Linked DNA regions of Homo sapiens. The protein of the gene in region 2 interacts with the protein of the main gene of each other region in a biochemical or structural test. Each region holds a gene or a part of one and is shown on either strand. Other genes may lie near its edges.

Region 1 (7,764 bases), 8.4 Mb from region 2:
AAAGAAAGAACCCGAAGGCATTTAAGAGATCTTCAAGGCTGCCCCTCCCTTTACAGGCCCAAAGGAGGGTAGAATGGTTTCATGGAACAGGCCTGGGATACTCTCCAATGCTGGCTGCCCAGGGCCACCCTAGACTGTGCTCCCTACATCCCAGCCAAGGTCAAGTGACCCTAGGTGTGGCTTATACCACATCTCTACAAGGTATAAGTTGTAAATGTTAGCAGTATGATACTAATTCTGCAAGCTTGCATAAAGGAAGAGCTGTAGAGGCTTTCCAGCCTCCACTTGGCCTCAAAGATTGTCCTCAGAAGCCTGGGAGCCAGGGAACAGACTTGTCTCAAGGGCAGAGCCACAGTGGAACTGTGGGGTTAGTGGTAGCTGAGAATCTCCACCAAGGTAAAGCCTAGTAGAGCCCAGGAAGTAAGGCCACCACAGAGAGTCCCCACTAGGGTAATGCCTAACTAGTGGAGCCATGAAAGCAGGACCACTACCTGGGCCTCAGAACTGTGGAGTCACCAGCAGCATGCAAGGTACACCTTGGAAAGCTTCAGGCACTGGACTCCAACCCATGCCAGTAGCCATATGGGCTGTACCCTGCAAAGCCACAGGGGCAGGGCTGCCAGAGGCCTTTACCCAGCCCTCAACCCCCAGTGTCTCCATGAGGTGGTACATGCAGTCAAAAGTGATTATTCTTGAGCTTTAAGATTTCATGTCTGCCCTGCTGGAATTCTGGACTTGCCTAGCGCCTGTTCTTTCTTTTTGCCTAATTTTCCGTTTTGGAATGGGAATGCCTGTCTTATGCCTGTGTCACTATTGTATCTTTGAAGCAGATAGCTTGTTTTGATTTCACAGGCTCACAAATGAGACTGTGGACTTTAAACTTTTAAGTTCATGATAGAACAAGTGAAGACTTTGGGACCCTGGGGATGGAATGAGTGTATTTGTATGGAAAAAGACAAATCTGGGGAGTGTCAGGGGTGGAATGCTGTGGTTTGAATGTTTGTTCCCTCCAAAACTCATATGGAAACTTAATCTCCAATCTAGCAGTACTGAAAGGTGGGGTCTCTAAGAGGGCTATGCCCTCATGAATGGATTAATCCACTCATGGGTTAATAGATTAATGAGTCATCATAGGACTAGGACTGGTGGCTTTATAAAGAGAAGAACAGAGACCTGAGCTAGCATGCTCAGCCCCACCATGTCACATTCTGTGCTGCCTCAGGACTCTACAAAGAATCCAGCAAGAAGGCCCTCATCAGATGCAGCTCCTCAGCCTTGGGCTTCTGAGCCTCTATAACTGAAAGAAATAAATTCCTTTTCTTTATACATACACATTACCAAGTTTCAGGTATTATAAGCAACAGAAAATGGACTAAGACAGACTCTCCTTGTGAAAATTTAAGAATATAACTCTCAGTAAAAGAGGAAATACAAGCAAATTACAGAATTTATGAAAAAAATAATGAAAACAGTAAGTATCAGTATTTATGGGATACAATGAAAACAATGATCAGATGAAATTCATAGCCTAAATATCTACATCAATAAACATAAAGGAATTATAATAAATTTTCTAATCAAAAAGGAAAAAAAAGGAAACAAACCAAAAGAAAGCACGAAGATGAAAATAATAGTGCAGAAAAGAAAAAACCAGCTTAAATTAAAATCCTGGTTCTTTGAGAAAAAAGAACAAGAAAAAAAGCACAAATAGACAAAATAAGTGACAAGGTGGAAATAACCACTGATATAGAGAAGCCAGAAATTAATTATAAGAGTCTATCTTACAGACTTCTATGCAAATAATTTGAAAACTTAAAGGAAGTAATTTCATAGGCTGTGGAAATGTTCCAGATCAAAGAAGGCTAAGGAGACATGACACCTAAAAATAATGCTGACTCTAGACTGAATCCTACTTTATTGGAAGGCAAATGCTATAAAGGACATTAGCAGATTAACTGACAAAACTGAATATGGATGACAAATTAGATAAAAAGTGTATTTATGAAATCAGTGGTTTCATGGTTATGGAACAGAATCTCCCTATTCTTTAGAAACCATGATGTATATAATTTACTCTAAAATGGTACAGGAAAAAAAAAAGGTGTGTGCACACACACACGTATACAAAGAGAGAGATAGAATAATGGTAAAGAGCTTACCCATGAACAGGAATGCAAAAAAGCTTTTCCATATTAGAAAGAACCATTCTCACAGTCTCTGGTGTTCTGGAAGAGCCCAACTCAGTCACCAAGAGAGATTTGGTAATATCTAAAAAGAAAGTGTTAGGTTTCAATATTTAGACTTCTAGAAAATACCTGACACTTGTAATTCAGAAGAGGGCATTTGTATCCCTCTTCCTTGTTTTATCGTGTTTCTTTATAAGCATTTAAATAATAAAATACTGATAAATTAATTATCCCTATGTGATCCTTTTTATAAGCATCAGAGTCCAGCTGCTTAGGCCCTTCCTGAAAAAGTACATAATGTAACCAATTTGCCTGCATACATAATACTTAGTGGGAAACAGCAAATGTCTTAAATATTTAAAAAGGAGAGACTAAATTCAATAAGGGATTTATGTATAGATTTGGAAGAAAACAAATTACAGTAAAATTACAGTAAAAGTAAAAATTTTACTTTTACAACAAAAGTAAAATTCTCTGACATCCATTTACAAGGCTGACAGGTTATCCAAGGTTTTCCATTTGAAGCTCAGGACACACCCAACACCCTAGATCTCACCTCCTCCCACCAATGGAGATGTATGTTCACCAGCTGTGTTTGATCTGAGCATTTCTGTAACTGTTGTACTACATTTAATAGTTACGTAATTTAGGGCTGGGCATGGTGGCTCACACCTGTAATCCCAGCACTTTGGGAGGCGGAGGCAGGCAGATCACGAGGTCAGGAGTTCGAGACCAGCCTGGCCAACATGGTGAAACCCCATCTCTACTAAAAATACAAAAAATTAGTTGGGCATGGTGGTGCGCACCTGTAATCCCAGCTACTCCGGAGGCTGAGGCAGGAGAATAGCTTAAACCCGGGAGGCGGAGGTTGCAGTGATCCGAGATCACGCCACTGCACTCCAGCCTGGGCAACAGAGCAAGACTCTGTCTCGGGAGGAAAAAAAATAAAAGTTACATAATTTAATACTTTGTAAAGTGAAGAATGACTATGCAAAGGAAAAGAGTTGTTTCTATCAAAGCTACCATATTCCTTCGGTCCAAGATTTGTATTTTCTCACATGATGACATCTAGAAAAATAAGAATGCATCCTCCATTTCATGGGGTCTTAGATTTTAATGAAAAGGAAATAGCCTAAAAATCTGCTCTTAAATTAAGTGTTTGAGGGAAAAAGGTATAAAAGTCTAGAAAGATTCTAAACTCAAATTGTTTTGCAAGTACCTCTAAGTTCTTGCTGCACTGAAAAGAATTTCAATGTGCAAACTGTGGAAAATGTTTGGTGTGGTTTATGGAAGAACAGTAACTCAAAACCTCAATAAGCTGTGAGAAAGAAAAAGAAAAGTTTTAATCTGCAGAATGCCAGTACCTTTAAATTATCAAGCCTGAAGAGGCATTTAAAATATACCAGCAGACAGTCTCACTCCCCTGGAGTTAAATAATTGCCACTTGAAGCCGCTTGCTACAGGGGGCTCTAGACTCACTGATGCCAAGCAGCCATAAAATGCCATGCACCCTATAATTCAACAGTGTATAGCCAATCACTAAGCAATGTTATTTCTGTAAACAAATGAGAATTCCTGAGTACAACTTTTCTCATCATCCCCTCTCCCAGTGTGTCCCTTTTTCTTTAAAAACCTGAGCCTCTGCTAAGTTCTCTGGAGCACTCTCCAAGGTAATCTAGAAGTGTGTCCTGGGCTGCAGTCCTCAACTTTGGCCCAAATAAACTCTCTACATTAATTTTGCCTGCACTTCCTTTTTTGAGGCCAACAGATGTAATAGAGAAGAAAGAACTTAAATTGCCATTCAGCTTATAAAATATATATGTCTCATTTTCAGTGATTCCCAGCTTTAACGGGCTTTTTTTCCACCCATTTACTTTGTAGTAATTGGTCCTGGGGCATCAGATCAGAGGAATTCTATAAAGAATTTTAGAAGCAGTAGATAAAACATAAACCATGAATTCCACAAGGACAGTGTGAAAGGAAAATAAATCTGAGGACCCAAAAAACACTAAGCCAAGGGAAAAGTCAAGCTGGGAACTATGTCAGGCAAACCTGCCTCCCATTTAATTCCTAAATAAGACACCTACAAAGACAAAAGAGCTACATACCTCCCTTACAATTTGCCCACAAGGAAATTCCTTGTGGACCTCAAGATCTTTACCCTAAAACAGTTCTGGCTGAATTTTGCCCTGGCAATGTAGACTGATAGCTTATCTTCACAGGTGTGGGAGAGAAAGTCATCCCTCTGCTCGCCTGAGACAAATTCATATCTGATTGCTTCATCTGCCCTATTGTTTATGTAAAAATGCAGATTCACTGAGCCAGACTCAATTGTGTATTTAAAGGCTGATTACGGACTTAAAAGAATATAATCATTTGTCTTTTATCTACCTATAACCTGAACACCGCCCCCTTCCCCACTTCTAGTTGTCCTGCCTTTATGTACATCTTACACATATTGATGTTTCACGACTCCCTAAAATGTATAAAAGGAAGCCGTACCCCAACCACCTCGGGCACATGTCGTCAGGACCTCCTGAGGCTGTGTCACCTTAACTCCTTAACTTCGGCAAAATAAACTTCTAAACTGATTGAGACCTGTCTCAGATATTTTGGGTTCACAATAGGAAGCCAGTCTTAATCATCTTCCTATCTCTATCACAAAATACAATGCTGAGCCTGAAGTGTTTGCTCAATTACATTTCTTTCCCTACTTCCATTCCACATTCAAAGCTGAAGTCAAAAAGAATAAAGAGATAATAAACACAATTTATGAATCAGTTAACACCTGGAGAATTCCATAGGTGAATATTAAAAAACAATAAAATATTGAGCACACAATATGAATAGCATCAAAAATTGGAATTAATCCTACCTTCTTGTTGTGAAACTTGTAGTTTTTGACCATTACAAAAGGCACCTTTTCCTTTTCTGGCAGTGTACATCTTGCCTTCCACACAACTGTACACAACTCCAAATTCTATCTGCAGAGGAAAACAAGTTTCCTTTACCAAACCTAAGTATGTTTCATCCACTTTTTTCTAAGAAAATAACAAGACAATCTGGTATACTGACTAGTAACAATGGACTGAAATGGCTAAACTGTGGGATACTTAAAATGTTAATTTCCAGACTAATCAAGAGAAAGAGGTCACCAGAACTGATATCCTTGACTCTCCTCCCATCCAAGTCCAGATCTAAGAACACCCACCTTACTTCTCTTCCTCCTGCTTCGGAAGACAGGGCTTTCCTATTTTCTAAGTGAACGCTTCTCCGGTGTTAGGACTCCTACCCTCACATACATTCTCTGAAAAACTGCTCCATCAGCTGATTCCCTAGTCTCTTGGATTTTTCTTCTTATACCTTCTCATTAAGTTTCTCTCCTCCTTACAAAACCTTTGAAATGTTATTCTATCCTTTTCCCTTCACTGCCAATGAGTAACTTTGCATCTCCTATTCTCCTCTTAATACATTACAATGTGGCTTCTGCCCTGATCACTCATTCTTCTGAAAGTCCCACAAAGAGAGTATCAACAAACTTTCTTTGTTGCCTCAAATGCCTTGTCTGAAGAATTGGAGTCTACTGGCTCAAGACTTATTCAATACTTAATTCACTACCTCCATGCTCCCACCATTATTCTCTTAGTTCTACCTCACCTACTAATTCGTTTCAGTTATGATTTTAGAACATTCTTTTCTGCCTCACCCTGAAAAGTTAGGCACCTCAGGCTTTTTTCTTCCTTCTCCCATTGCTTCCATTTCCCTTTTAGCTCTCCATATTCACACAGGTTGGTTTTTTACAGTCCACAAATTCATTTTGGCTCCCATCAACCTCATAATCGGGGGAAGAACCTACGGTTCCAAACCTAGTCTTGCAGAATTTCAAAGACAAAATCATTCATTGCCTGATCACCTCCCATTCCTTCCCCATAAATCTCCTTCAAATTTAATCTCAAAAACACTTTCCAATTTTGGCATTTCCTTGGCTATTCTCACTGCCTCTACTTAGTTCACCCACACCCCAGTATAATCTCTACATTGCTAGAATTATCTGTCACTTTCCACTTCAAAACCTCTACTGGTTCCCAACTACCTTGAAACACAAACTAAATTTTCTTGCATGGACTGGCCACAGTGCCTCACAGCAAGGCCAAACTAACCTTTGTCCTGGCCACTTGCAGTGCTTCCCTCTCCATGAACATCTCACCATTCCCCACACGTATAATGGTCTTCAATTTCTCCAAGCTGTTCTTTCTGATTAAAACGCCTTCCTCTTCCCACCACCCCCCCACCCCCGCCAATCTGGAAACCCCTAGTTTTCTAAGGGCCAACACATGATCAACTTCTAAGACCCCTGCTGTTATGAAGATTTTCCCAACCCACTCTCAGCAGAACTGGTGACATCCTGTGTTCCCATAGTATTTTTTTTCATGGTTCTACCACATATCATCTTTACCTGTTCACACATCTAACTTTGTGCTGAGCTGTTGAGTTCAGTGGCAGGGCCAGCATACAGCCCAGAGCTGATTATATACTGAAAGCTCATGTAGCTTCTTCTGGACATTCTCATTAATTAATACAACCCTGGGGCTAAGCTGTCATTTGTCCAATATGTGTTTTATATTCAGAAATGTTATAACTGCTGTTATACATGTTGATCTTACATATCAAAAGTTCCTTGAAGATAGGTAGGTAAAATGTTAGTAACCATCCTTTACTGTTTGACCAACTAAGGAGCCAAACAGCAAGGAAATGCTATAGCTATATGTTTTATTCTGCTAGGCTTTAGATGTAAGTATTTACACATAAGACAACCTGAACTATGTGTAGGTTCCTAAAGAGAGTCTGTATTTTCCAACCATGCTTTGGCCCCTGCTACTTGCTGGTTTCTAAATGTATTTCTTCACTAACACCTACTAAAGCATTCCCAGCTCAAATCTCACCTCTTCCACGAAGCATTTAAGATCACATATAAACTTCTATCCCATCTGACTCTATCACACATATAATGGTTACTAAATACTGAGTTGTATTTCAGTTACTTGTGTGTATTTTCTTCTTACAACTCCTGCTTCTCAGAATACATAAAATTTTATCCAATGCAAATGTATCATGAAAATTTTAACAGTCCTGTAGCTTATATTCAAAATAATGCAGTTATATAATCAAATATACAGACAAACCTGAATTTATTATGAAAACACATTTACTTTTTCTCAGAAAATGAGAGCAAGGCATATAATCAACTATACGTTTAAAAAATCATACCTTTTTATTTACAGCAAAGCCAATTGAAACAGCTACAAAAGGAAATCTTTTTTTAAAAAAAAGGACAAAATACAAATTAACCAACATAGAACTTTTGTTAATAAAATTAATCTTTTCATAATATAAGTGTTCTTAAAATTTTTCCTATAAAAAGTCTCATCTCCACTCCCCACAAAATCTAAGATGCAAAACAGTTTGTATGGTATACAACCCTTTGTAAATAGGATAAAGTGGAGGTATTATACACACACACCCTCCCCCCAACACACAGGCACACGTTCACACAGGATGCTTCTATAGGCATGAAACA
Region 2 (7,764 bases):
CTCAGTAATAAGTTATTGGAATTATCTCCAAAGGAACTTTACCTCCATTTATTTACAGCCTATCCTGATGCTAAACAAATAGTTAATTACCTTTATATATTGCTTCAATAAAATATTTACTAAAATTTGTGCAGTTTCTGGGCCACAAAACAGTAAATAAGACACAGACCCCATCCTCAAGGAGCACGTAGACTAGTAGGGGAGACAAGCAAGTAGGAAGTTGTTGGTTTTTTTTCCTACTCTTGATAACAAGCAATCAGTTCTCAGAAATGAAGCTCTGAGGGATTCTACTTATTTCCTTAGCTACCTGCCTTCCACTCATCCCCTTGATATTCTTCACTCTCTTTTCCAACTCATAAAAAAGTTTTGGGAGTTCATAAAAGAGCAGGCAGGCAGCCCAAAGATTACAGAATCACCAATAATATTGTAATAAGAAGTATTGGATACTTCTATAAACAGCAGTGACTTAGCATATCTGAGAATAAAGCAACTCTACTTAACACCTCCTATATGAAAGACCTTTGGCACATTATAGACATAGTCATAAAGGCTACAGCTGGAGAATTACTGTGCCCAGCTCTGAAACTTGAATATTGATTCATACGCATTGAGAGAAGAACCGAGAGACAACACAGGACCACCACATTGTGAAACATATCTTAAGAAAGATTTCTTTACATTCACTATAGCCACATCCTATATACACATAATAATTTTTATATGCTTAAGACTCCTTTCTAACATTTATAAAATAGGATGGTATCATGTTGAGTGTAACATTAATGGTTCAGTGAAATTAAAACAGATTGAATATGTTGCACATTGATGTAATCTGTATTTTTTAATAATTTAAGTATAAAACCAAAGCAGTATGGGCAAGAAATACACATTTATAGTAGACATGAAGAGCATTTTTACTATCTCTGTATCTGACATTCAGGAGACCTCTCAACTTTATGTGAGTTACATGAACTTTTATGTTGAAACAAAGATGGCAATTTCCCTAATTTTACATTTAGTGATTGCTTACTAGTTCATTCATTTGTTTTTTTCTGTTTTTATGTATTCAGTGAATTTGGAGATGTAAAATATTTAAAGAAAAATTATTCTTTTTTGTTCAAAGCAACACACACTAATTATAAAAATCCAAACAAAATAGAGAATTATGATGAAGATAAGCAAAAAATAACTCAATTCTTTTAAGTAGATGTTTTTAATAAAGTAAAATTACCAACCAATCCGCAAGCATTTATTTCAGGCATATAACATGCTAGATACCATGCTGGGCATTCAGGGGATGCAGAAAAGTATTATTCCCTGCCCTCTTGAAATTAATGGTCTAGAGGAAGGTCACGCAAAAATTGTAAGAAGTATCTAACAAGTTGCATACTAATAAATAAAGGACGAGTTGGGGTTAGCTATTTCCTGTTTCCTAAATGAACACTTATATTCATGAAAAAAACATAATAAAATGTGGCTAGACCTTCTATATCATGCAGAACCCTCCAAAATGTATACATAACATCCATTTCCATTGTTCAATCTTTCCCTCAAAATGTCTGCCTCTGATATATTTTCTTCTCTTTGATGTGTTTTATTGTCTTCCATCTTTGTTCCCTCTTCTTTCTTGTGTTACTTTTTCTTCTCTTCCCATCTTCTTTAAAATCCTCAAGGAGATATTCTTCAGAATCCCTCCAGGAAAGTATTATTATAGAAGAGGCCAGGCTCAACAAGACTGGAGGGGTGTGGCTCTCCGTCCTCCAGAGCCCCTCTCCATGCCGAGCCCACCCACTGCCATTCTCCCTCCCTTCTCCTCTTCCCCCTTAGCTCTGGGGGGAGACCTACATTCTAGGCCTAACTTACCAGATATCTGGATACTTTATAATGAAAATCATTTATAGCTACTTTCCACTAGGAGCCCACTTACAGATGAGGAAAAAAAAGGGATTTTTATAAGGAAAATGGTGTTCTAGATTTCAATGAGTAGAAACAGCTTATCATATTTAAACTATCTCATTGTCACGTGTAAAAATCACCAACAAATTCATTATTTGCAGTCCAAGAGCAAAGAAGCAACCAAACCACTCTATTACTGTCTTCAACAAGCATGTTGTTGACTTAATCTACTAATAATCACCAAATTAAAGTGATTTTCAGTCTGCCAATCATCAGGTCATCATTCAACCTCTTTGGGCCTTAGCATCCTCAATTGAAAAATTTGGTCTTGAATTAAATTAAATTATGTTATTTCTGAGGTATAGAATTTTATGATTCAAGTATTCAAAGGAATTGAAAGAATGCAAAGGTCACAGAAGTATGTCCTGAGTTTAATAAGGGACCTGGATAACACACACACACACACACACACACACACACACACACACACACACACTGCAATGATGCAAATGTGTTTATGTACCAAAAGCTAATTACATTTTTTTAAAAGCACTGGCACATTATAAACCCCCATTTTTACTTTTTAGATATATTATCATCTACCCACACTAGTGACCTTTCTTTAAAAATAAATAAGAAAATGTTTTATAACTAGGTCATATTAAACATGTTGACATAAGGTTTGGCCCTTTCCCTTAGTCTCACCCACATGTGTGGTGCGTATAAATCGAGTGGTTTTAATTTGAAATATTATTTCAAAAATCTAAACATAAGATAAGCTAAAGGGCATACACAGGCATAAGAAAAATTAGATTCCTTGCATATAAAGTAGAATAGTGCATTTTATATTAAATATTAAATTTTTAAATGAACCTAAAAGGATGAATTTTTTAAAAAAAGTTATGATAGTATTTTCTATAACTTGGTAGAACTTTTAGAACTGACTCTGACTTTAAGGCTGATCTAGACTACAGGCTGTTGGCCTAAAATCCACGGATGAGGGTCCGTCCATGCCCGTGATCTAGGGAATTCATCAAATCCTGGAAATTAGATGAAATATAGTGTGTGTAGATTCATTATTTAATGGTGAAAATGCAGTGCTTCCAACAGAAGGCGTTTTGAACCCAATATATTCAAGAAACACTGGCTTCTATTTCAAGTCCTTGTTTTAGTGATGAGGGTACTGAAGTCCAGAAATGGCTCGGGGTTGCTGGGGACCACAGCTAATTAGCTACTGTGCCAGAAATAGATCTCACATCTGTAGTGGAGCCATCAATCCAGCTCCTTCCTTCTCTGTACGCAATAGATTAGTCATAAAATGGGATATGGAATCCTTTTTTCTTCCAAAAAAAAAAAAAAGAGAGGAGGATTGAAGTTTTGAAATGAGATCTAAGGGAAAATGTCATAGAGGCATGCCGTGGAGATCAGAAAATAAACCCCAGCCCTGGATTCAAGCAGTGGATGTCCTTTCAGCAGAAAGCAACAATTTGAGAACTGGCTTTTCCTATTCCTGTTTAACGCCCCACCATTCATGGTGAATTTCTTTTCCATTGCCTTACGATTGTCTTTGGTTTATCTTCTCTTGTATCTCATGGTAGGCTTTCTCCTCGGGCTTGGGAATACATTTTCCCCCTTCACTCCCCTCCCCAACATTTATGTTCCTCATGGTTTCTTTCACTTCACATGAAATTTATGGCCCCCACATGTGCCTTTCTGTGACCCTGTGAGGAGAGAGGAGAGAGGCATAGAACACTAATCTGTGGCATAGAACACTTGAAGGGTTCAAGCCACGAGGATGAATCTGCCTGAATGTCCAGCAGACAAGAAGTGGCCACGCTAGTTCTACCTGAGCACAGGTCTGCTGCGGCCACCTCACTGGCCAAAGAACCAAGCACACAAGGGCACACGAGCGTTGGAGAATCGACAGCGCTCCATAGGAAAGTACCAGAAAGGGAAAGCCGACTCTAATGTTTTTCCTCTCCTACTTTTCTAGCCTGTGAGGGAACACGTTGAAGAAAAACTAAGCAGCAGGTAATGGCAGAGACTTGTTTTTGAGCAACTTACAACACGTTTCTCTCTTCTTAAATCTTTTCCAGTTGGCTCACGTATTACCCACAGAAGAGAATTTCCTGCTGCTCTTCCGATGCCAGCAGCTGAAGTCCTGTGAGGAATTCATGAAGGTATAAGAAAGCTGCCCCTTTAAGAAAGCTGCTTAAAGTAGGAAAATTGTTCCTTTTATTAAAAATGTGTTTGTTTTCCTTATCCAAAATTACTTACAGACATGGAGAAAATATGATACTGACCACAGTGGCTTCATAGAAACTGAGGAGCTTAAGGTAAGCAAATAAAAACTTGTACTAAGTTTTTCCTTTCAGATGCAATTATGAACTAAGAGTTTCCTAGCTTTTTAAAAAACCTCCCACAAAAGAAACTAATGTTGAACAGTGTCACATTTTCACCTACTCTTCGACATTGTTAATGAAGTACCAGATCAAAAAAGCATCTTCAATTGCTTCTGGAAATTCTGTACAGTAATGCAAAAAATTAACATTTTTTGTGGTGTACACAAATATAAGACAGACAGACAGATAGAATTATAGATAAGCCGAATAAGCCATTCTTTTATTGAAATTTGTAGTTTTAGTTCTCAAAATAAACACATATATATATAAATTTTCTTACAAAAGAAAGAAGAAAAAGTTACTGAATAGCTACTGTATGCCAACTACTTTACACATAATGCCTTATTTAATCTTTGCGTAAGTTGTATGACATTGTATTACCCCATTGAGGAAGAGTTGAGAGAAGTTAAATGATATACTGAAGGCCACACAGAAATCGGACAGAGCCTTGATGTGCAAATCCAGGCTTGTCTGCCTCCAAGGCCTGTAGACATTCTACACAACCTACTGACTCTCAGCAATGATGATAAAAAATAAAAAATCTTCTAAAATTAAACTTTTGAAAAACTGCAACTTAGAGAATGAATTTATCACTTCGGATATCACAGAGGAGGATATAAAGGAAAAGGCAGAGATCTGAAATCAAGTCTTAACTCATTAATTACTATATCTTTCCAATTTTCTTTAATCTTTAAAATGAGTGTAATAAATCCTTCCTCTCAGGCTTATTGTGAAGCTCCAGTAAGATTCTGCACATGAAAGCTTTTGTGACATGCAACATAAAATAAATTATATTATTCATGAACTCAATTTACTAGCCTTTCAGGAATATGGAAGTATTCTTCTCATTTCCTCAAGCCGACCCCAAAACATCGCCATCTGAAAGACCCTACTTTTTCTATTTTTAGAACATAGAGTGACTAAAATATAAGTGAGTTAATATTTACTGACTATCTGTCAGGCAGAGTACAAGGTGCTTGAAGTGTATTTTAAAATTTAATCCTCACAGAAAATATGCAAGGCAGGTATTATCACTCCTAATATAAAAACAGTGAGATTGGAATGCAGAGAGATTTGATGATTTTTCAAGATTACACAGCTGCCTAGGAAGAGAACCTGGATTTGTACCTAGAATATCTGATAATGCTAAGAATGATTCCCCACCCCACCCCCACAGCACTACATGCTTTCAGACTTCATTTATTAAGAGCTGCTCTTTTGCTATGTGGGGAAATATGAATATCAACAGTTCTAGTCATAATTCAACATAGTTTGAGTAGCATACAATTTTAAAGATGGAACGGGGACATTTGGGCCATGGCAAAATGGCTAAAACATACTCAATTTTATCCTCTTGAAAATGTAAACGTTTTTAATGTGAAGTCACTGAAAACAGTGTATTTTACAAACTTGCAGCTCAGCAATCCACAAGGTGACAGTTAAGCCACTGTGTTTTTATTTTATTAGTTAGACCAAAAATATTCTTTTAAAGATCCTTTTTAGTTCATAATGAAAACCTTAGCTCATTTCCAATACTGACCTCTAAATATTCTAAAAGCCTCCTTCTTTGTTCTAAATTTTATTCTCAGAAAGAGATTCTAAATAGAAGTCCTCTTCCCTGGGGAATTTTGAAGATAAGTTGGCATTCTTTTTTAATGGATCTTTCAAGAAAGCTAATTTTAAGATCCATAATAGAGTAAAACATCACTTGCTCTCAGACACGACTTTGAATCTCTGCGTCCCAAGGTTTCTCCGAGGCTATTTTTGTGACCACCATTTTAGTCTCTGATGAGGCTTTTTAACCCAATTAATCTCTGACAAAAGCCCCAGAAGGCTCAAAAATAAAATTCAACCCCAACAGATAACTTTGAATTTTCCATGCTTCACTTTGGATTTGAAGTGGAATATTTGAAGTAAAAAATTTTTATCAAACTAAGAAAAGAGTCTCTTTCCTTTAAAAAAGTGGCATCAAATCAGCCCAGAACTGGAACATTTAGGAGAGAGATAAGTCATTGCTAAATCAAAGAAATCTAATCCTTCAATAATATCTGGGCACAGTATCTGCCTAGTTTTTCCTAATTGCATTAATTCATTTTCTGAGAAAATAAAGGAGTTACGAATGAATAGCACTAAACAAAATGAATGACTATTATAAAGTGCTTACACTGTCACTTATATGGCAAATCTTTGTAAAGCTTTTATTTATGTTTCTGTTAAAAAAACTTAAATTCATTCCTAAGCTCCAGGTGTCAAGTTAATAATCATCTTTTTTTCATCCTTCCCACATTAATCTCTATTTTAATATGATTCATATATCTTTCAAAGATTCAATGACATCAACTGTGGCCAATTTTGTTAATTTAAATAGTCAGTGGAAGCATTTTAACCAAAGTGCTTTGGACTGCATTAGGCTAAAAACTACCCAACTGGCCCTCTGGAGAAATAAGCATCATGCTGGCTATAAACTAATGTGTAAATACAGCCTGGGGAGCAGAAAATGGATTTGAAATTAGGGATAGATCTCTATTTGGTTTACTGATATTTTTTCACAATATTCCAAAGGTATAAAGGCCCTTGTGTTTCTTGCAGAACAATCCAATGAGTACTTGTGAAGATATCAGTAAGAAGAAATGCATCCATTGGGCTGGCTGGTTTTAAAAGGTTTTATTCAGGTTAATTGAAATCATAAAGTCATGGTAATGCACAGACAATGATCAATCAAGTCTCAGTAAAAAGCAGGTATTATTCCTGTCAAAGGTAGTTTCATTGCTGGAATGCCAGGAGGACAACCTGGTTTAGTCTTTCTTCTATTATAAGTTCCTCTACTCACCTGCTTCTACCCCTCAAAAGGAGACTTTCTTTGCATTCCTGGTATGTCCTGTTCCAAGGCATTCTGAAATGAAAGTAGACGATATATTATTAATGAAATTAATCTAAGTGTTCTTTGTTTTAACAGAACTTTCTAAAGGACCTGCTAGAAAAAGCAAACAAGACTGTTGATGACACAAAATTAGCCGAGTATACAGACCTAATGGTAAGACTGATCTTGAAAAGATTGTACCCAAGAGCTCATGAAGTAGTATGATGTTCTTGCTAACTCCCAAGGCTACACAGGATGAAATAAATAAACGGTGGTGTGGGCATCATATGCACATAGGTATCATTTCATTTGAAAAGTGAAATACTTAGGGATGCTTACATCTTGTCATTTTGAGTTCTGCAGGCATTGGCTTTAAGACTCAACATATGAGCATTTTCTTCCTTGTAGAGCTGTGTAATTTTTATCTATCAAAAGATGACTTGTTTTGCTTCCAAAGCCAGTGTAATTATATCACTAAATTATATAACTTACACATATATAAGGTACACTATATATATATAAATTATATCACCAAAAACTCACTTATTATAGAGTTCCTAAATCCATTTTTATCATAGTTTGGGAAATCACACTTTGTTGAGTTTA
Region 3 (8,664 bases), on a different chromosome or scaffold from region 2:
AATTCCTCCACTGAAAAGGCTGTTCTATAACTCATAAGGGCCCAGGAGGAAGAGGCACACACGAGCCTCTCCCTTCACTGGCTCCCTCATGCTCACGTTCCAAATGCTTCTTTGGAACTTGTCAAAAGGAAATTCCAGGAAGTTATAGCACTGATCAGAGAAAAAAAATCAAAAGTAATCTCTCCCTAGGAAGCATGTGCTCATATCTGCAGCTACCTGAATAATTAGAATCACCAAATGTCAGACTAGAAGCAACCTTAGCATTAATTGTAGTTGCAGAAGCAAATTTCAAACATCAGAATGAGAAGATTCTACTAAAGGTCAAAAATGTATTCCCTTCAAACAGAGTCTTATACAGTCTTTTTTTCTAATCTGTATACCTTGTTTGCAATAGGTTCAATGCATGCTATTGCCCAAAGACAACACTGAATTTAAAACTAACCATCTAATGTCCAATAACCAAAGGTTGGTTTCACATTTTAATTATCTGCCCCTGTGAAGTTTCAGGCTGTCACTCCCTCCCCCTACTACTACTACTATACACACATCCAGACAGTGGGCTAAATATACCCGTACAGCCACCCCTCTGCAACCCGAAGAGACAGGAAGGTATATACAATGAAACCCCTTATATACAACTTCTGTTACTCGCATTCCAGACTGCTACAGCTTTGTGTCACTTCAGAAAGCAAATCCTTTTAAAAAACAGATGGTAAAAGAGAAAATGAGAAAGACTTCCCCCAAAAAAAGGATACTTCCATTCCACTATACTAATGCAGGCTCTTCGGATGGGGTTATTGAGTGATAAACAGAAAAGGGCGCGGGCAGGTCGGCTGTTGGACGAGTTACCCTGTTTTTTGCTCTTGGCGTATTGCTGACGTTTTCTTTGGGAGAGAGATCCTACAGGTGGGGGTGCAGAGGTGCTCATAGTTTGGGCAGCCTTGGCCTGTCTAGCAGCATCGATTGCAGCTTGCCAAGACAGGACAGTTTGCTTGGAGCTATTCGGCTGAGAAGTTGGTCCTTCACCAGAAAGAGGAAGTCTGGTGCCTCTTGCATAGTTTGCCTCTGGGGAGAAGGAGAAAAACAAAGATTTTTTTTTTTAAATGAGGATCCAGTGGGTAGGAGAAAAAAATCAAAGGTTGTCTCCCATCAATAACAGGGGAATCATTCACTCCTATGTTTCCATTTTGAATCTCATGTGCTATTTTTCACAAGCTGGGCTTTAGTCAGCTGGAGAGTCAAGAAAAGTCCACGAGCTCTGGTCTCAGTGTCAATCACACAGGATCACCGCTGCATCACACCCAGTGGGGTTAGTACTCCTTCACATCATGTCTTCACAAAGGGTCTTTTAGTGCATTTCTTCTGACAAAACTGAGGTCATTCCCACATTTACTCCGCATCTCTGATTTGTAAAACCCATCTATCTCTAATGAGTAACAGATACATACAACAGCTTTTCTCTAACATAACTACCACCATCACCAAGGGGAAAAAAAAAGGCAGTACCAATAATTCAATAGTCTTAATCATTTTCAGAGTGTTACTCCAACATCTTTCCACAGCCACAAATGCATTTTTTTCAGTACCGAAAAAAAATCTTCCATAGGCACCCAGGCAATACCAAAAACCCCATAACAAATATCTAGATTATGCACTGACACTTCCTGCAAATGAAAATTCATGATGCTTGGGACTCATTTCCTCCACAGGCTTCCGAAAACAGAAAACATCTTTAGGGCTTTTTTGCATTTTAAATTGCAGCAGCATCAGCCAAGCCAGCATCCAGAGAGACAGACAAGGCAGTCAGCCTGCACCCCTACACCTAGGATAGACTGACTGGATTATGCCAGGGGCCTCCAGGCCTAAGAGGGAATTATCTCCGTGTAGGTTGGTATCCAGGTGCACACAAGGCAGAAACTCAAGGAGGCTCCCTATGCGAAGCCCCCGCCAGCTTTGGGTCAGGCCATCTCCCAGGCAGATCTCCCAGGCACCTGCCGCCTTCCGCCACAGTCTCCTCACTGAAGCAGAAGTGAGAGAGGTGACAGCAAGGTAGAGAGATGGGCGTTTGCAAAGCCAATTATTGCTAAGTAAAGAGTCAAAGCAAGCACGGGTCTGAAAGCCTGAGAAGAGGGCAAAGCGGGCGAGCGGCGGGCAATCGGAGCGGGGACGAGTCGAGTCATGTCAAGCTTCTCCCTAGGGGAGCGCTCACCCGGAAAGGCTTCCAGCCGACAGGGGTTGGGGGGCACTGGCGGTCTCCAAAGGGGAGGGCTGGCCAGGAGCTGCTCCATCCTCCCTCGACCCAGCCCCGGCCGGCGTGGAAGCTGCACGTGGTGCCCGGGCCAGAGCTGGGGAGGGGAGCCCCACAGCGGCAGCGGCTCCCCGGGCATTGCTAGGTTACCGACGTGTGCACAGCCGGCGACGGGAGCGGGAACGCACGCTCCACCCGAACCCCTTTCCCCGATACCGAGGCCGGGCCTCCCCCGCGAGGGGATGGGTGTGCTTCACCCACCGGCGCGGAGGGCGAAACCGGGCAATCCTAGAATTTTCCGGATGCCACCAGGGACCTTCTTCCTAGTCAACGAGGGGGCGGGGGAGGAGTGGAAGGCGAGAAGAGGCTGGCAAGGGGGCTCCGGCTGAAGACTTGCGGCCCTCCTGCCATCGCTCGGGGGCGTTGAAGGAAAGTTGAGCCCGAGGACACTGAACCCGAATCACCCCGACTCGCCGCCCCTCCGGCTGCACCGCGCTCCACACACTCCACGGCCGCCCCCACCCCACAAATGCAGAATTAACTCTGACATTCAGGGCCTGGAGGGGAGCGCGGAGTGGCTGTCACGCATGTCCCCTCTCTGTGTAGACGACACCGAGCTGGCAGCACCCTCTCCAACCCCCTCAACCCATCCAGCGCCGCGGGGAAGGGGGAGGGGGCTGGAGGACCATGACAGGATCGGATTTGGCAGCGGGTGCCCGGGCTCTGGCTGCTCACCGTTCGCGTGGTCCGCTTGCTGCTGCCGTTGATGCTGCATTTTTTTCATCATCATCATCATCATCATCCACGAACATTTATTGAGCGACTACTGTGTGCAGGGCACTGTGCTGGGCGTTGAGGCGGGGGCGGAATGGGGAAGGGGATCACCAAGAGGTAGGAGCCGCGGTCCCTGCCCTTATTCTCGCTTCAGCAGGGGGGTGGGGAGGGACGGGGACAAATAACAGAAAATAAGGATAATTGATTTAAAAAAAAAACCGCTCGCCACCCAAGCTCTCTCTTTTTCAAAAATGGAGCAAAATAAACTTTTTAAAAAAATAAAATCCAATGTATATATTATCTTAATAATATATACATGTAATTTTTTGCTGCAAAGGAGAACTGGCTTGTCCCCTCCTCTAGCGGAGAGACGCCGCGGTGATGCCGGCCCGGCCGCCGGGGCCGCTCGGCGCTCCCCCCATGCCCGCCCGTCTGCCCGCCCGCCGCGGTGCCCGGTGCCCGCCGCCGCCGCCCGCGCCGCCGCTGGCTCGGGACCGCGGGCAGCCGGAGCTCACATCCGGGGACGGAGGCGCTCGCCCGCCCGCTCGCTCCGCGCCCGCCGCGCCGCGCCGCACGCCGGCTTCGCCCTGGCGACGCTGCGCGCCCGCCGCCGTCCCCCGCCCTCCGCCCGCCCCGAGCCGCCCACGGCCCGCGCCGCGCCGCGCCCCGGCGGGTCTGCAGCCCGGCGCGCGGTTCTGCCCGGCACCACTTGCGCGCTCGGGGTGGCCGTCGCGTGGGACTCGGGGTGCCGCCACCCCAGCCTGGCCCGGCTGACCTGCGGGCTCCAAAGGGTTAAGCGCGCTCCAGCGGCGGGCTGCCCGGTTAACCCCCTCCGCGCCGCACGGTGCGCTCTCCCCCCGGGACCCGGAGGAGGCAGGCGGCGCCAGTGTCTCCCGCGGCGCTGGGGTGCGGATGAACCGCTCCTCCCCGCGCATTTCTGGGCTGGGGGACAGCTCGGGCTCCCGCGCCGGCCCCGACTCCGCGCCGGCCTCCTCTGCGCACACCTGGAGGAGGCCCCGCCCCCTGGGAGCTCAGGTGCTAGCGGGCGGTAGCTGCTGCGGTCTCCGAGCTCATCCTCGTCAAGGCTCGGCCGGGCTCCCTGGCTGCTCCGGAGCGGGGCAGGCGCCCCCTGCTTTTCTCCGGCCCTTTCTGGAATCGGGGGGGTTGGGGTAGCCCGGGTCTGTAGAGAGCACTCACTACCCCAGGTAACTGCCTGCAGCTGGAACCGCGAATCCAGGGCGCCCCCCATCTTCTCCCCTGCCCTGCGCCTGGCCTGGCGTCGCGGAAGGCAACGGGGATGGGGGGCAATATCTCCCCCCACCCCACCCCGCCCCCACGTGTGTTTGGAGGCAGGTACAGGGAAGTCAAAGCCAAGGTCTTTCAAACCGCTCGTGTTGTTCAAGGAAATAGACGGTGCTGCTGAAACTGTTGCCTCCAGTCTGGGAGCTGAAGGGAGTAGTTTATTTTTTGATACCTTCGCTGGCTTGGATTTAGGGTGGGGGAGATTTGCAAACGGCAGCTCCTGTCTAAAGGGGAAAATACTTTATCTAGTGGATGACTGATATTTTTCATTTAGCTTTGTGCTGCCTGTTAGGAGAAGGGCGTCTGCTTTGTTACTTCACAGGATTCGATTTATTTGCTTTTGTTCCTATCTGCATGTTCCTACGGCGTTTTAGAACGTTTCAGAACAGTGACTTTAAAGCGAAAATAAAGTAAAAGCTCAGCGTGAATTAAGAAAAATAAGTGTTTATGGGAAGGTGCTCCTTACCCAAAGAGAACACACTAGTCATCCTCAATTGTTGGGGGGCACCTGGGCAGAGAGACTGGGGACCAGACAGAAGACTCTCCAGAGGCCTTCCTGAGGGGGTGTCTGGTCCGTGAGGATGAAAACAACCAGGCTCTTGTCCTTTTTTGTGCTTTGTTTTTGGAGACTGGAGAGGCGAGAAATCGCCCTACGGTCTAGTAACAATATAAAGCTGGCCTGGGCCACCTCTCCTATGGCTGCTTCTGATCCAAAATCTGAAGGGAATAGAAGACGGTTCCCTCCAAAGAAACTAGCCCATCCAAGGAGCATGTATGAAATTCACAAGTACACATGTCACTTTCAGAACTCCTGGTCTAAAGCCTTGCCTCTTGAGGCCTTTTCTACAAAATTCCCTGAGCAAGTTTGTTTTATGATACCTTTGCTGGCTCAGATTTGGAATGGGGGAGATTTGCAAACAGCAGCTCCTGTCTAGAGGGAAAAATACTGTATCTAGTGGATGACTGAGCCGAACCATATTTGCTCATTGTTCAGTTCAGTGCAGCCAGCATTCATAAGGCACCGGTTAAGAATAAGGGTCTGGTCTAGATGTCAGGACAAATCTATGGCACAGTTCCTTCCTCAAGGACAACCTAATGACAGAAGAAAAGTTTGTATACTTTTTTTTTTTTTGAGACGGAGTCTTGCTCACTCTGTTGTCCAGGCTGGAATGCAGTGATGCAGTTTCAGCTCACTGTAACCTCTGCCTGTTGAGTTCAAGAGAGATTCTCCTGCCTCAGCCTCCTGAATAGGTGGGACTACAGGCGCGCGCCACCACCCTCAGGTAATTTTTGTATTTTTAGTAGAGACGGGGTTTCACCGTGTTGGCCAGGCTGGTCTCAAACTCCTGACCTCAGGTGATACACCTGCCTCGGCCTCCCAAAGTGCTGGGATTACAGCCGTGAGCCACCGCGCGCCCGGCCGTGTATACTTCTTTCATACCATGCAAACATAGCAGCTATAACAAGTATGAAAAAGCGCTATACAAGCATCAGACAGATTAATTGTAACTGAGGGAACTGAGATGTTTTCACAGAAGAGAGGGCATTTGAACTGATTCTTAAAAACTGACCGGGAGAAAGAGGGATGAATAGGTGGCATACAGGGAATTCTAGGGCAGTGAAGCTATTCTTTATGATACTGCCATGATGGACGTAGGACATTATGCGTTTGTCAAAAACCCGTTGGACTGTACACCACAAAGCATAAACCCTAATGCAAACTATAGACTTTTGTTAATAGTAGTACCACAATATTGGTTCATCAATTATAACACTGGGGTGTACCAGTGTTATAACTGTGTATATAGTGTAGCTCACTAATGCAAGATGTTAATAGGAGAAACTGTTGGGGGAGAGAATATATGGGAATTCTGTCCTTGCTGCAAAATTTTTCTGTAAACCTAAAACTGCTCTTAAAAAAAATAAAGTCTATTAAAAACAGGTGACTACTTTTACAGGGCATAAATGATGTATGAGGAATGAGCTTTGGGGGTAAGAGCAAAGGCACAGGGGAGACTGAAGTGCAAGGTGGGTGTGTTTAAAAATGAGCAGGAGCACAGTGTGGCTGAGGCAAAGACCCCCTGGGCTAGAGGAGGAGGAGGCTGGAAAGGCCAACCCAAATCTGTGGAGGAAGGCTGGCTGGCTAAGAAGACCAGATTCAATTTCTTGGCAGTGAGAGCCAGTGAAGTTGTTTTAGCTCAAAAGTGACATGATTAAATTGTGGTTTCGGTCTCCAGGTTTTGTGCGTTAGATCTTAACAAGTTTATGGTATTGCAGGAGGGTTTGGGGTTTTTTTTTTAAATAATTATTTTTAGAAACAGGGTCTCACTATGTTGCCCAGATTGGAGTGCAGTGGTGTGATCATAGTTCACTGTAAGCTGCAAGCCCTGGCTTCAAGCAGTTCTGCCTCAGCCTCCCAGCGTGCTGGGATTACGGGCATGAGCCACTGCTCAGCCTTGAATTGGAGTTTTTGACATTCCATCCCAGTTTCTGAATGAGTCTCATCTTGGCGATGTCTCCAGCAAGCATTTTTTTTTTTTGAGGGCCTTGATTCAGCACAGCTCTAGATGCGTTGGCCCATTGGGTAATTTAAATATTTATATTCCCATGATAATGCAAACTACTGAATAAATAAATAATAAGATCTTTTAAAGGCTTCCTGTGTGCCAGGTTCTAGGGTAGGCACTTTATATGTACTAACTCATTTAATTCTCGTAACAAGCCTACGAGGTACTATAAAACCCTCATTTTGGCCAGGCTCAGTGGCTCATGCCTATAATCCCAGCACTTTGGAAGGCCAAGGCGGGCTTGAGTCCATGAATTTGAGACCAGCCTGGCCAACATGGTGAAACCCCATCTCTACTAAAATTACAAAAATTAGCTGGGGATGGTGGCGTGCGCCTTAAGTCCCAGCTACGTGGGTGGCTGAGGCAGAAGAATCACTTCAACCTGGGAGGTGGAGGTTGCAGTGAGCAGAGATTGTGCCACTGCACTCCAGCTTGGGCAACGGAGCAAAACTCTAAAAAAAAAAAAAAACAAAACTCATTTTACAGACAACAAAACCAAGACACTGAGGAGTTAAGTAGCTCGCCCAAAACCACACACAATTACTTAGTAGCTGAGCCAACAAGACATGAGGAAAGGCTAAAACAAAAGATTTCAGCTCTAAATCAGCTACATGTGCTACAACCCAATTATGTTGCTAACACACTATTGTGGGGTCTTAATCTCCATGACCTTATTTATAAAGCACTCCCACTTGAACGCACTGAGCTGGCATGCCAGACATGATTACCTGCGTGCACTGCATTTCAAAAAACCTTGCTGATGGCCCAGTCCAGAACCTCACCATCTCACACCCCAGGTCATGCACAAGATGCCCATTCTCCATTTTTCCTCCCACAAATAATCCATCTTGTTCAAAACACACCATGTCACTTCCCTGACCAAAAAATGTTTTCTTCCTCCTTCCTTCCACATTCAACCTAAACTCCTCTGACTAGCGTTCAACCTTATCATCTCGCACCATTCACTTTAAACTGTGGTCAGCAGTCTCATTAGACTGTGAACATGCTGTGCTCATTTCTGACTCTCTGCTTTGGCTCCTGTTTATTCGCTGACCAGGAATCCCTACCTTGTTGACTTGCTGACCTCTCACTAACCCCTCTCCATTGAAAAAGCCTCGGTCAAGTCTCTGCCTCCTCCAGAAGACTTCTCTGATTGCTACTGCTGCTATGGACACTCGTGTGCCCCCACCCCCACCTCCCCTTCCCTAAAGGCCTGCAGCACCTGGCTTCCCCTTTGATGACATACATTCTTGTGTCTTGTGTGATTGCTTCTTGGCTATAAATCCTGTCTCTCCAACCACCGTGTGGGTCCTTAAGCAAGGATCACCTCCTTAACCCCCTCTCCCTGCTGCTAAGTGTTATGCTCACAGCGGGCACTAAATACTCTGATTAGTCTGCACAGGATCATAAAAGCCCACATAGATCACCAGAAATTGTCAGCTGATATTTACAAAAATCCCATAAAGTTTATGGTAGCACACTTGGCCCTTAGATGGTAAAAATATAAAACAGAGGGAAAATTGGGTCCTTTGCACACCAGGAATTCTAATTAAGGAAGATAAACAGATCCTGAAGGCTATATGCAGAACATATCCTTAAACAAACTGTGTAGTTGGGTTTGAATGAGTTCCTCCATCCACAGGCCCTGGTGCTAAGAGGGGATAGCCCTGACCCACTAACCACCAGAACAGGCGGATTAAGCGGGTGGGGACATGTGTTCCAGGTAGAGGAATGAATGGGATGCACAAAGTCAGGCTGAGAAGTCCAGAGTAC
Region 4 (7,764 bases), on a different chromosome or scaffold from region 2:
AACTGAGAGGAAGTAATGCAGAAAAGAGAATAAATTGAAATAAGAAAAAGCAATGGTGTTACTTCATGAAAGGAAAGGAGACACTATCTGACTTGTTTAAGAATGTTAAATGTACAAAGATAACATCTTGGGAAATGCAGAATTAAAGAGATGGGCAAACAGAAGACTGAGAAGCATCAGAAATAAATCTGTGGCTGGGCACGGTAGCTCACACCTGTAAGCCCAGCACTTTGGGAGGCTGAGGCAGGAGCAGTGCTTGAGGCCAGGAGTTTGAGACCAGCATCAGAAACATTGCGAGACTCCAACTCTTTAAAAAGAAACAAAAACAAAACCAAAAAAACCTGTAGAAGTGATGTCACAAAAGCCAAGAAAGGAGAGAATTTTAATTAAGAGAAAGCCCAAAGTCACAGAGAGTAAGACTGGTGAGCCAACAAACGGATGGGAGAAAACGAACTAGGCAGAGCTGACTTTTGCAAGAGGCTTGGTTGGGAAAGGTTGGGGGTGGGGGGAGAGGAGGGAGGCAGCGGCAGCCCAGCTAGATGTGGTAACCAGTGGCATAAGGTATCACAGCCACATCACCTTTAAATTTATATTTTATTAAAACACACAATTACCTTTTCACTATTAAAAATCAATAATTTAATTCTGGTGACTACTCATTGTGAATGCTGACTTTCATTTAGGAAGGTCTGCTAATAACCTATTCTCAGACAGCTGTTCTTCAAGTGACTTCCTGGTACTGAGAACATGTCAATCTGAACCTACAATTTTTCACCCAGAAAAATCTTAAGTATACACATTTGAAAACAGCTACAAAGGAAATATACAGATTTTCTGAGACAAATGGAGTGTCCCTCTGTCACCCAGGCTGGAGTGCAGTGACGTGATCTCAGCTCACTGCAACCTCTGCCTCCAGGATTCAAGCAATTCTCCTGCCTCAGCCTCCCGAGTAGCTGGGACTACAGGCACCTGCCACCATGCCCAGCTGATTTTTGTATTTTTAGTAGAGATGGGGTTATCACCATGTTGGCCAGGCTGGTCTCGAACTCCTGACCTCGTGATCCGCCCACCCTGGCCTCCCAAAGTGCTGGGATTACAAGCGTGAGCCACCGTGCCCAGCTGGAAATATACAGATTTTCAAAAGGAAAAAGGTTTAAGATTATAAAGAGGAAAAATCTAAAAATAATGTCATAAGTTAAATCTCACCTGAAAAATGTGCGGTGCTTCCTTTGCCTGATGCTAAATTGTGGATATTCATTCCATGGCTGGGGCTCATACTTGGACTACTAAAAGGTCGAGGACTAACAGGATAACTGTCTTGAGACTTTGGACTTCGGCCTCCCAAACATCGTACTTCACTATCTGTACCATTCACCATTTCTATAAACTGACGCACTCTAAAGGAGAAAAGAAAAATTTACTTAGACACAATCTTCAAATGGCCTTTTATTTAATAGCAACAGATTTCTAAAAATATTTTTAAAACTTTGATTTATCAGTAGGATTGGTCTTTAGTAAGCTAAAAATATTAAATATGGTGTCCTATGCTTTAATGCTTAGAATTTTAGAATTTCCAGAAAAATGAGAGTACAATGTAATAGACACTATAATAATATTACCCCCTTTAATCAGGATTTACCAAATGGAAATTTACCTATAAGAAGATATGAACCCCATTTTTTTGGCTACAAGTAATTTAATCAAAATAACATTTGCGCTTGGTAGCAAATCAAATTGTGCCTAAGGACATGATTTTATGTATATGAGATACATATAAAGCGTAGCCTTTCTCCCCACCCGTCCCATTCCCAACCTCTTAACCAAAATGGGCCTCATTTAAAATTCTTATTCTAAAGCAAAACAATTCTGTCATTTGACTTACAAAGGATATCTGTTGCTTAACAAGTTGAAATCTGAAGCTCAGTAACATCTCATTTTTTAAGTAACAAAGATTCATAAAACCAATTAAAATTGTCAAATCAGGATGGCTATTATTAAAAAAAAATAGTTAAACATAGAATTACCATATGATCCAGAAAGTTCACTTCTGGGTATATAACCAAAAAAATCTAATGCAGGGACTCAGATATTTGTACACCTATGTTCACAGCAGAATTATTCATAACAGCCAAGAGGTAGAAGCAAACTTTAAGTGTCCATCAGTGGATGAATGGATAAACAAAATGCAGTATTATCCAAACAATGGAGTAAAATTCAGCCTTTAAAAGGAAGAAAATTCTGATACATACTACAATAAAGATGAACCTTAAGGCTATTACACTAAAATAAGCCAGTAATGAAGAATAAATACTCTGATTCTACTTATATGGGTAGTCAAATTCATAGAGGCAAAATGTAGAATGGTGGTTTCCAGGGGCTAGGGGGATGAATGGATGGTTAGTGTTTAATAGAGAGTTTCAGTTTGGGAAGATGGAGAAGTTCTGGAGTCGGATGGTGGTGATGGTTGCACAATGATGTGAATGTAAAAAATGGTAAATTTTATGTATATTTTACCACAATTTTTTAAAATGCCAGAGAGATTAAATGTAAGGTACTTCTGAGAAGGAAAAATAGACACCCATCTTCTAAATAAGATTTTCACATTTTTAAACACATAAATAGAATAATAAAAGCAAATACATAGCAAAAGACACCTTCTGCTTATGGTCCTTAACACAAAAGTATTTTTCATAACATGTTGCTTAAATGACATTACAAAATTGTATATACTTGAAAAACGAAAAAAACTAAAATTACAAAAGCACGAAAATGTCTTTTATTACATAACTTGACAAATATTTATAATATATAACAAATATAGCATTTTATTATGCAAACTCACTTTAATGTGAAAAGGAGATTAGGATTTCTTTCAAGTAAACTTGGGTATAACTGTTGTGTTGTTTCAATGGCTTCTCCCATTCTTCCTGCTAATACCAATTTCTGAATTCCTATTCAGTAAAAGAAAGCAAACGATTAACTTTTACAAAAGTAGATAAAACATAAACTTAGTGACCTCAGAAAAGAAAGTTAGTAAGAAATCTTTAAATAAATTATGATTAATTTCAATTTCTTTCTCTAACATCATAGTTTCCATTAGGCAATCCAGGAAACATTTCAGACATACTAGAAAATTAGAAAAACAAGTACGGTCACAAATTTTTTTTTTAAAATCACGAACATACGAGTAATATAGTTAAAATACCTATTATGCAATATTGAAGTTTCAAACACTGAGATTAAAAAGACTGTTTTAAAGGGATACTAAAATGCCTTATCAAACATAATCTTCTGAACAAAGGACTGAAAAATGCTAGCTTTTGACTAAGATTCCAATTTAACAGAGACTCGTTGAGCATTCACTTGATCTGTTATATGTTAAATTAGATGATAAGGATACAAAATGAGTAAGTGATCTCTGTTCAACAGAGCTTATTAAAATAGTAGAAAAGGACAGCACACAATTAACTACAACCCAATGTAATCAGTGCTATTACAGCAATTTGACCTATGAAATAGTTGTTTTCACCCATTAATTTCACCCATCTATTTTGTTTTCATCTCTATACTCTTGTCAAGTCATACCCACCCTGATGGACAAACAGCACCAATTTTAGGATGGCTAACTATGGACCAGTTATGCTGACTTGCCATTGTTATACAGGACCTGTTTTATCTCTGGCCACAGAGGCCAGCACTAGGATCTAAATAATAAATACTTATGGATCAATACTGTATTAGCCATTTAAATTCAAAGATATTTACATTTCTTTCACATACTATCTCCTCCAACTAATCAGGACTACTTTATTATTATTTTTAAATCTTTTTATTAAATGTTTATTTCCTGAAAGCTTAAGAAAACATTTAAGAAAAAAATGGTAAAGACATTCCTTCAAAAAACTTCTGTAAAATCTCTCTAGAATTAGAATTCTGACATAGTCCTATGTGAATTTTTAAACTGATCTTCAAAAATGTCAGTGAAAATAAAATTCAGAGGCATCCATTTTAAATTAATATATTTGAAATTTTTTTAATTAAAAAAACAAAATTTCTAAAAATTAAAGTAACCAAATCTATAATCTGAAAACAAATGTTAGCCATGCACCACAGTGTCCTTACTTTGTCTATTCTTAATGGAAGCTAATTCTTCTAGAACGGTCTGGTCTGTAGATCTGGCAAAGGCCTCTGCTGTGGCACAGTACCCATGGTGGACTAAATAAGATGAAACCATTCTTAAAATAAAAAGAAGAAACATACATCTTTTAGTGAAGAGAATACATGCTTCATACTACAATTTATATAAACAAAATCTATTCTGGTGTTATAAAAACGAACCTATTTCCTTGAAACAAGGCGTTAAGAACCTCACCTTTAAAGTAAGCTTTTGAAAAACATCATTTTGTTCTATTCATGTACTATTTTCGAAAAGATAACTGCAAATGCTATGTTGAGACTACTCTCCCTAAAATAAATATTACTTGAGAATCAAGGACATTAAATGACCTTTTCTTTGATTCTTGGACTCTCATTACCCCCAGGTCCCTTCCTATCTTATTATTCAGCCCTACTAACCATAATTTCTATTTTGACTTTATCATATGACTTATTCCAGTATTGCTGGCATTCTGTAAAATAACCAACTTTAAAATAAAAGATTAACTCTTAATGTTCCAGAGTTCAACCATCTTCTTTACACACCGGTTAAATGAAGTGGGATCACAAAGTATGTACAGAATACTAAGGTGAATCCAGAGAGACAATCTTCCAGAACATGTCTATAAGTGTACTACTAATTAAAGGAGGAATCAGCCTTCTAATCTAAATCAATTACTATGGTTTTACCCAAGAGATTTATCAAATATGGTTTACATGTAAGTGACACATTTCCAAGACAATAATCTTTTAAAAACGTACCAGGTAGTCAAAACATATACTTACATCTACCCACAAGATGTGGTTAGAAAAACTGGTGATGCAACAATATTAACCCAAATATCTGTTATCTCCAAACAGTCAATTTTTAAACTTGCCTCCACCTGACACTACTAAGGGCCAGTTAGAAAATCGTGGGAAGCAGTGGTTCACCACAGGAGGAGACTGAGGCAAAGAGCGGAGGGAGAAAAGGGAGGAAAATGTCTAAGAAACAGATCTGCATCTTATTTTACCCAATTGTTCAAATTAATTTAAGGGGGAGGGGACCTTTTAGAATGGACTTCTCAAGAGTTCATGGTGAACATCAAGTCAGTGAAGAAGTGGGTGGAAGGATCCTGGTTATAAGGTTAAGATAAATGTTTTCTACTATCTTGCCATGATACTCAGTGGTAACCATTTTCAGAGCATTAAAACAGTGTGGCCCCAGAACAACCCATTCTAGCTTCACTTCGTGGTGACTATAGGATTCTGCATCAGGGTTGTCTATTCTCAACTGGGCTGGACAAAAAAACTAGTGTCCAATCTCTGTAATACAGATGATAATAGCTCCAGGGACGAAGTGTGATTTCAGAGTCATCATCATGTCTCCCAATCACTTCCTTTTCTAAAAAATACCCCCAACATTTTATTACAATTTTAAAGTTAAGAATATTCAAAGCAATTATAAGGACATTAAAGATGAAATGTGTTGGACCAACTGTATCTGAAAGTCTGCTATTTTCTTGACCTGGATTATAATAGTGAAGAGGACTTTTTAAATTTAATGGTATTTATTTAAATTTTAAGTCCATACTTAACTACTGCTGATAGTTCAGATATTAAGAGCTTGGACATAGCCAAGTTCATGACCAAAAACCACAGATCCTGATTATAAGATCTAGATTATCTCTCAACTTTATCTTTTCCATTAACATTATTAAAAGTTAAATTGTATAACCTACAGAAATCATTAAATCCTATTACTAAGAATAGCAAATGAATTAACCTAGCCTAGGTGACCTAACATCATTTTATTTCCTTCATCAAATTAATTCAGACTGAAATACAATTCTGTACGTGTGTCAAACAATTGTTTTTAATTTGTTTAAATAGTGGAGTAAATTACTTTTCGTTGAGAGATTAAAATCAATAATATAATAGATATGTCAGTATATAAATTAGTGGATTAAAAAGCTTCTGTGGATACCAACAGAATAAATGTCTTATAAAAAACAGATTCTGAATAGCATCAATTGAAATTTCTTCACTCTTACTTTTGTATCATGGTCTGCCATTCTCCTTCTCGATCTCCGATAGGAAATCGATCTATCTGTGCCTGGATTTTGGTTCTCCACTCCCGCATATAGTCTTCTATATCAAACACGAAAGGATGTTGCCCAAAATTGGCATCGACCACTTCTCCTGGTGTTTGAAGCCCCACAGTAGGATACAAATTTGGCTGTAAGATAGCATATTTCATTAAACATCTATCCATTTTATGTTAGATTTAATAATTCTTTTAATGTTACATTTAAAAGAATAGAACTATAAATTTACTTCATATTTTAAAATCCCAATCAAAATATTAGAAGGCTAAAACAAATGATCTAAAATACATTATATGTTAGATGAAAAAATATCACTTCCTGCAATGTAATCATCAAGAAAAAACAAAGAGACCCAAGATCTCTGTTTTATTTATTCAGGGACTACGTTGTATTATACCACGTGGTATTATGCTACTAATATATGTGCATGTAATTCTTGTTCTAAGATTATGTCATATAGTAGTTACAGAAATTCAACTATAAACACATAACTCAGGTTTATCCCACATTTTATATATGATACATTTCTATAAACTGCATGTTAAAGCTAGTTATCATAAAAGTATGATCTCAGCTAGTCTGGCATTTAATAGCTTAAATTTACTGTTTTCATTCTGTATATTTGGGATGCCTAACTTTACAAAGGGAAGGGGATAAGACCATAACTATAAGCAAAACACAGTGCCAGGAAGAGTGGAGATTCTCTATATTAAAAAAAAAACACAAAACCTCAAATATATGTATTTCAAGGGAGGAAAAGGATGAATCTGAATATACCCAAACTCAGAAATGCATTCAGGTACACTCCATGGTTTCAAGGTTAATCAAGATGAAAAGGTGATAACTTCAAGTAAACAAAAAATACAGGGGTCATTCTTTTGGCTATGTCACTAATTGGTTGTTACATCTAAAGGCAGAATGAGTTTCTGAGTGGCTACTAAATGCCAGGGTTTAATCATAATTCTGTGAGGCCACTATTATTATTTCTACTTCAAAGACAGAGAAAATGAGGATTCAAGGTTAAATAACTTGCTCATGGTCGTTCTGCTAACAAATGGCAGAGATGGAATTGGAACACAAGTTTGTCTGATACCACATCCAAAACTGATTTTTCCTCTTGCAACTCCAAATCCTACCATATTTTCATTTTCTGTATTTATGTCTTATATCTTTAATAGTTATAACAAGTATTTTTCAGTACAAAACAAGGTAAAGATCAAGAGCGGATAATTTCTGTGTGAATATGTTAAATAGATTTCACAGTAAAATGCAAAGAGGGTGTGTTTAAAAACAACCGTTCAATCAAGCAGAACAAATCAGAAACAAAATATTACATCAAAATATCAAAAATATAAAGTACTACTGGATTATGGAAATAAATGGTTAAAGCAAAGTATGCAAATGTATTGATTCTTAATAATCAACAGAGCTAACAAGTTTATAAACTTTTAAGCCAAAAACAGGTGAGATAGTACAGCCTTCCCATTTCACCAATGAGAAAACTGAGACCTAAAGACTTTAT

The links.
Region 1: the proteins of CALB1 (region 2) and IMPA1 interact in a test that uses a peptide from one of them, tested with the Homo sapiens proteins (one study listed by BioGRID).
Region 3: the proteins of CALB1 (region 2) and CACNA1D form a complex in vitro, tested with the Homo sapiens proteins (one study listed by BioGRID).
Region 4: the proteins of CALB1 (region 2) and RANBP9 form a complex in vitro, tested with the Homo sapiens proteins (one study listed by BioGRID).

The regions. Positions count from the first base shown.
Region 1 is NC_000008.11:81,668,780-81,676,543, forward strand, and holds part of IMPA1 (inositol monophosphatase 1), read right to left. Parts: intron 7,501-7,764; coding exon 7,455-7,500; intron 5,171-7,454; coding exon 5,062-5,170; intron 2,269-5,061; coding exon 2,160-2,268; intron 1-2,159. UniProt on the Homo sapiens protein: Phosphatase involved in the dephosphorylation of myo-inositol monophosphates to generate myo-inositol. Is also able to dephosphorylate scyllo-inositol-phosphate, myo-inositol 1,4-diphosphate, scyllo-inositol-1,3-diphosphate and scyllo-inositol-1,4-diphosphate.
Region 2 is NC_000008.11:90,065,466-90,073,229, reverse strand, and holds part of CALB1 (calbindin), read left to right. Parts: intron 1-3,992; coding exon 3,993-4,076; intron 4,077-4,175; coding exon 4,176-4,232; intron 4,233-6,947; exon of another isoform or gene 6,948-7,191; intron 7,192-7,254; coding exon 7,255-7,332; intron 7,333-7,764. UniProt on the Homo sapiens protein: Buffers cytosolic calcium. May stimulate a membrane Ca(2+)-ATPase and a 3',5'-cyclic nucleotide phosphodiesterase.
Region 3 is NC_000003.12:53,489,553-53,498,216, reverse strand, and holds the start of CACNA1D (voltage-dependent L-type calcium channel subunit alpha-1D), read right to left. Parts: upstream 3,607-8,664; 5' UTR 3,051-3,606; coding exon 2,984-3,050; intron 2,403-2,983; exon of another isoform or gene 2,388-2,402; coding exon of another isoform or gene 2,210-2,387; intron 1,066-2,209; coding exon 756-1,065; intron 1-755. UniProt on the Homo sapiens protein: Voltage-sensitive calcium channels (VSCC) mediate the entry of calcium ions into excitable cells and are also involved in a variety of calcium-dependent processes, including muscle contraction, hormone or neurotransmitter release, gene expression, cell motility, cell division and cell death.
Region 4 is NC_000006.12:13,638,357-13,646,120, forward strand, and holds part of RANBP9 (ran-binding protein 9), read right to left. Parts: intron 6,374-7,764; coding exon 6,189-6,373; intron 4,236-6,188; coding exon 4,123-4,235; intron 2,952-4,122; coding exon 2,843-2,951; intron 1,398-2,842; coding exon 1,207-1,397; intron 1-1,206. UniProt on the Homo sapiens protein: May act as scaffolding protein, and as adapter protein to couple membrane receptors to intracellular signaling pathways. Acts as a mediator of cell spreading and actin cytoskeleton rearrangement.